2 separate regions of the Homo sapiens genome follow, and region 1 is linked to region 2. The links come from fine-mapping of genetic effects on gene expression. A gene starts in region 2. The other region holds a variant in brackets. All regions are shown on one strand. Distances are from middle to middle.

Evidence for each region.
Region 1: its variant is fine-mapped to the expression of XXYLT1-AS2 in transverse colon (GTEx, PIP above 0.99).

What each region holds. Positions count from the first base shown.
Region 1 is chr3:195,178,732-195,181,642 of GRCh38, forward strand. All of the region lies in intron 2 of XXYLT1 (xyloside xylosyltransferase 1), which reads right to left. Among named protein-coding and RNA genes, the nearest start is that of XXYLT1-AS2, 32 kb to the left of the region's middle. RefSeq lists enhancers at 1,327-1,904, 1,905-2,482. The variant C/T (reference allele first, on the strand shown) is at 1,843.
Region 2 is chr3:195,146,237-195,149,147 of GRCh38, forward strand. XXYLT1-AS2 (XXYLT1 antisense RNA 2) reads left to right here and starts at 1,635. Exons shown (of 2, transcript NR_102711.1): 1 at 1,635-1,869. The region is part of intron 3 of XXYLT1 (xyloside xylosyltransferase 1); the gene reads right to left. It also overlaps the pseudogene RN7SL36P. RefSeq lists enhancers at 1,353-1,462, 1,703-1,752.

The sequences.
Region 1 (2,911 bases), 32 kb after region 2:
AGAAGCAGGTATCTGGAGAGCAGGGAACCTAGAGATATTTCCACCAGGGAGCACATGGGGAAGCCGGGACTGTTTCCCCTGATGGAAGGCTCTCTCTGAATTTGTAAAAGAAAGGAAATAGGCTTCTTCATTGAGATCGAGAGCTGAAGCATCAAGAGATAAAAGCAGGTTTTGGAAAACATAAGAAAGAGTTTTCTAAAATATGTCTGAAGATGGAAGAGGCTACTCTGAAGGTGGCAGCTCCCTGTCCCTGGGCCTTCACGTAGTTTCCACTGGACAACTCCACACTCCAGGGAGGCCATGGAGGAGATTCAAGAACTCATGATGGGGCCGGGCGCGGTGGCTCACGCCTGTAATCCCAGCACTTTGGGAGGCCGAGGCGGGCGGATCATGAGGTCAGGAGATCAAGACCATCTTGGGCAATATGGTGAAACCCCGTCTCTACTAAAAATACAAAAATTAGCTGGGCATGGTGGCACGTGCCTGTAATCCCAGCCACTCGGAAGGCTGAGGCAGGAGAATTGCTTGAACCAGGGAGTCAGAGGTTGCAGTGAGCCGAGATCGCGCCACTGCACTCCAGCCTGGGCGACAAGAGTGAGACACCGTCTCAAAAAAAAAAAGAAAAAAAAAAAAAGAACTCATGATGGGATCGTACCTCAGAGTTTTTCCAGCCCCAAAACACTCTGACCCAATTCAACAACTCCCTTAACTCCACTAAAAACTGCAGTGTTCAATACTCTGACCAGAAAAGGATATGGAAGCTCAAGAACTGGTTTTCAGTCACGTCCTATTTACACTCAACTTGAACACTGGCCAAAGAATCAGTCGGCTGAAGAGGCCTGCGTGTGTGGAGGAGGAATGCTGAGGAGACATTGGCCCCAGAATGGACACCGTCAGCTTGTAAGTCCACTAGTCAATTCCAACAGAAAAACCCCAAAAACAGAAACAAACCGGAGGCAAACAGCCCACACCGAGAGGTAAGCAGTTTCTAACTGGGAACTCAATTTCATCCTGCCCATGAGAAAAGCACAAAAAAGGTGATTTTCCAGATTCCACTTGCAGCCGTAGAGATGTGGGACAAATTTAAAAACGAGTCACAATTAACAAAGGATTTCCTAAGTGTGGTGTTGAGCCAGGAAACCTGCCCTGCGTCGCCCATGCTGTGACTGATGCGTGGGCCCCTGAGGATGCCTCCCCGTGATCCCTCGGGCCTTTGCTTCCTCCTCTCCCTCCCACTGTCTCCCCCAACACAGGCAGGCTCCAGGCCGGGACTCCACACTGCAGGCAGAGTCGGGCCAGGGTGCGGCTGAGTGACGGAGCGCCTGGTGAGGGACAGAAGAATCTCTGAGCGGCCCCAAGCAGTGGGGTTCTGGCAGAGCACCGCTGACCCGTCATGGAAGGAGGGGAGCAAACAAGAGGGGCAGGGAGGGAGGCAGCTGTGTAGCAGGCCTGGGGTGGTCTGGCTTATGCACAGTCATTTCTAACGCCAGATCCCCGTCTCTGCACTGACACCGGGGGTGGTGAGTGGCACACTCGGTCCCCCAGTTACAGGAAAGGTCCCTTCCATCCTGGGGACCCAACTCATGAGGGCCCAGAAGGAAGGAGCCACAAAGGTCTGGATGGTTTATCCCCCTGGCCCGCCTGGCCCTCAAGACACACTTCCTTCGGCTGCAGCCTCGCCGATTCCCGAGCTGTTTCCTGCTGCTTTTCTCATTTCATGAACTTCTTTTGAACAATTTCCTGTTCCTTTTTCTTTCTATGCTCCTCTTCCTGGCTCTGTAGCCCTTGAAAAGAAGCAAACAAACAGATAAGGGTCAGCATCTGAGGCCAGACCCTAAGGCC[C/T]TTCCCAGCCCTCTCCAGAGCGTGATGTGGCCCCGTCTGGCTAAGAGCACCAGACGGCGGTGGCTGGAGCACCCCGTGCCACTGCAAACGTGACCAGGAACATGGGTCTGACAGCTCTGGACACACACAAGCAGACGGGAAAGGCGCCTGCCCACTGCCCCCACCCCTGCAAGCACACACCTGCTCGCCAGGAGCAAGGGCAGCGCCGGCCCTCCTCGGGAGAAGCTCCAAGGCCTGTCCCTAGTCCTGCCTCAGGACTTTGCTCGTGAGGGGTCCTCAAGGCCACTGTCGCCCAGACCTTTAGCTATACAAAAGTAAGTGGTATGGTTCATCCCTTCTTGGCTAATGAGGTTTGACCACAAACCAAAATATAAAATGCCCAACTGATTTCAAGGAATTCAGTTCAGACAAAGGGCTAAAGGGTGGTGACTCCAGGCCGTGAGAGGGAAAGACAAGGCCGGAGCATCTGAGCCTTTGATGGGGCCCACCTGCGGCCAGGTGTGTAGCACTTAGAGAACATGTTCTAAAAAGAGAAATAAAGGTAATTTATTTGAGAAGTCGGTGCTTGAGAACACTGTGCTTCTCCTGAGGACTGACTTGCTTCCCCTGAGGACTGACTTGCTTCCTTCTCTCTGACAATGACGGCTCCATAAAGGATGACAATCTCCCTTTTCACACTGGCTGTGTATCTGCGTGGCTGCGTGGCTGCGTGGCTGCGGGGCTGCGGGGCTGCGGAGCATGTTTTGCCACCAGGCGTGCCTTTATGTCTTTTTCTATGAGGTCTACACTTTCATCTTCTACACATTTACCCCCTGGCCCTGAGTGTCTACTTGGTTTTGTTTTTTCACCTTTGTGTCATTTTAGTGAACACCTCAAATTCTCTGAGGGCTGTGACAGGGGACTGAGGAAGTGGATGATAATAGATATCCACAATCATGGTGTGAGCAGGTAACACTGCTTGAGTGCTTACTGTGTGCCAGGTACTGTTGGAAGCTGTTCCTGTATATAAGCTCACTTGGTGCTCACAACAACCCTCGAGATAGGTGTATTTCCATGGATAATGTATCCA
Region 2 (2,911 bases):
GGTCCCTCTTGTACACATGCCACTGGGATTCAACTGTGCTATTTTGCTTTTTTTCCCCAGGAAGATGCTTACAGATAAGCCTTTCTGCTGCCTGGATTACAAATAAGGTTCTTTCAATGCGATGATGTTTATTTGGCATAGGAAACAGATTGCAGCAATGCAACAAAGCACACAGTCCTGCGGGCCCATCATCCGCCGCTGTGCCTCCACTGTAGCCCTGTCCAGACCCACGTCCCACTGCAAGCTCCTGGAGGACAGGGTCTGGTTTCTCTCTACTGCATAGCCAAACCCTCGGCAAATGCCTGCCCAGTGAGCTTTCTATTCGGGCACAGAGTTTGGTCTATCCCAAGAGCACTCTTAGAGGCTACGCCTGCATTGCAAAGCCAAACACCACTCCGAGAGACTTTTCAGAGGAAAGAAGGGAATGTGATACCCACTTCTTAGCATTTTGAAGGCAGAACTCCATTTTTGTTTGTTTGGTTTCTTTTTTTAGAGACAGGGTCTCGCTATGTTGCCCAGGCTGGAGTGCATGGCTAGTCACAGGCGTAATCCCATTACTAATCAGCACAGGAGTTTTAACCTGCTTCATTTCCAGCCTGGGCTGCTTCATCCCTTCCTAGGCAACTTGGTGGTCCCCCGTTCCCAGGAGGTCACCAAGTTGATGCCAAACTTAGTGCAGACACCCACAGAATTCCTGGGCTTAAGTGACCCCCCTGCCTCAGCCTTCCAAGTAGCTGGAACTACAGGTGCAGGCTACCATGCCCAGCTGAAGGCAGAATATTAAGCTGAGGGAGAGGTGAGCCACTCAGTAAAATTTACAGTTCCTACAGCAAAAAGTCTATGTATCTTGTCCATGGGATATCTCTAAACAGCAGTACTGACTCAGTGTTGACACCGCAGGCATTTGCGTTTTCATTAAGTTTTATCTACCCTATCTCCCTCACGTTATATCTTCCTTGAAAGCAAGAGGCATGTCTTCTACTTCGTAATTCCTCATGGGACCAATCCTATGGCTCACACACACAATGAGCCAAATAAAAAACTGAGAATAGGCTGGGCATGGTGACTCACACCTGTAATCCCAGCACTTTGGGAAGCCCAGGCAGGTGGATCACCTGAGGTCAGGAGTTCGAGACCAGCCTGGCCAACATGATGAAACCCTGTCTCTACTAAAAATACAAAAATTAGCCAGGCATGGTGGTCAGCGCCTGTAATCTCAGCTACTTGGGAGGCTGAGGCAGGAGAATCGCTTGAACCCGGGAGGCGGAGGTTGCAGTGAGCCAAGATCACACCACTGCACTCCAGCCTGGGCGACAAGAAAGAAACTATGTCTCAAACAAACAAACTGAGAATAACAAACTTTCCCATGGACTGTCTTTACAAACAAAAACTGAATGTGAAAGTAACTTCTCTAAGACCAGTAATGGGACTACAGAGCCTGACTTAGCAGCTGGCCAGCACCGCGGAGGAAACGCCCTCTGACTACACATCTGTTCCTGCATTCACTCAACAAACATCGAAGTGCCTGGCATTGGTCTGCACGGCATAAACAGAACAGAAGGGCTGCCTCCCAGTCCCACCCCTTCCACGCATTCACTTCCTCACTCATTCTTTCAGGAGACACCTGTGTCAGGCACGACGTGGTGAACTTTTAAAAACGGATTCAGTAGTACCAAAATACTCATAATGTGCAGACAGACAAAAGAACTGGAAGGAGTCGTGTTTTCAGACACAGGAAGCTTTTCACGTGCTCCACCTGGACCTCATCTCTCAGCCTCACACTCCGATCTTCAGCAGCCCCCGCTATGCGCCCGAGTCTTGGGACGTCATCCCGGAGCTCCTAGCCTGCCCGGGAGGCAGAGCCATCAGGTAAGAGACGGTCACAATGACAGCAACACAATCCCGCTTGGGTTCTCTGTACAGAGTTTTCCTTTTAAAATACCTTTTCCACTGATGTTATTTAAAAATAACAACCTCAGAGTAGACTTCTGATCTCTACCACAGGGCAGGTACATCCCTCCCTTTTTATGAGTAATTCCTGCAGGGGTTATAGCACGGCCTCCAGGTCACACGGGCTACACAAAAACACTTAGCCCAGTTTTCTAACTCCCAGGGAGTGAAGGAATCACTATTTTAAAAGGTGGCAAGCTTTTTTCTCCTTTACTCAGATTTAACTCTGATAGAAACTGACAGGCTCAATCTTGGTTAATTTTTTTTTTTTAAACACGAGAACAAGGTTCAAGAAATTCATCTTCAGGTGTCAGAGAGACGAAAAGAACCCAATAGCTTTTATCTTCAAGTCCTACATTTATGCATCTCGTAATGAGGGTGATGGCTGGTTCCCTTACAACGGAGGGCTTCATGCCTAGTGAACAACGGACCTGAATTTATATCAGCCATAAAGCCTTCCAGACGTGACGGTCACGCTAACATCCTGACATGAGGCAATCTGCAGAGAGATGGAAAGTGTGCTTGGCTAGAGGTTAGTGCTGCCTCTCTCTATTTTCTTCCCTTGTACCAACTGATTTCAGACTGAGGAACTTGAAGACAGAGTGACACTATGAGCTCATATAACTCTCCTCAGCTCTAAACTCGGCCACAGCAGATGTGTTTTTAAGAAACTAATAGACTGAAAATGACATTTACAGACGAAATGCTGTGACGACTGAGATTCGTTTCAAAATAATCAGGGGAAGAGGAAAAGTGGGTGGGAGGAGACATAAAACAAAGATTGGCTAAGGGCTGATAGTTATTGAGGCTGCATGGATATTATAATATTGGGGCATCCAGAAATATTACATGATGCTTTCTACTTTTGTATATGTTGAAAGGTTTTCATAGTAAAAAGAAAAATCATACCAAGAGACCAGCAACATTTATCAAAGAAGGCTGACTTAGGTATAAGGATGGT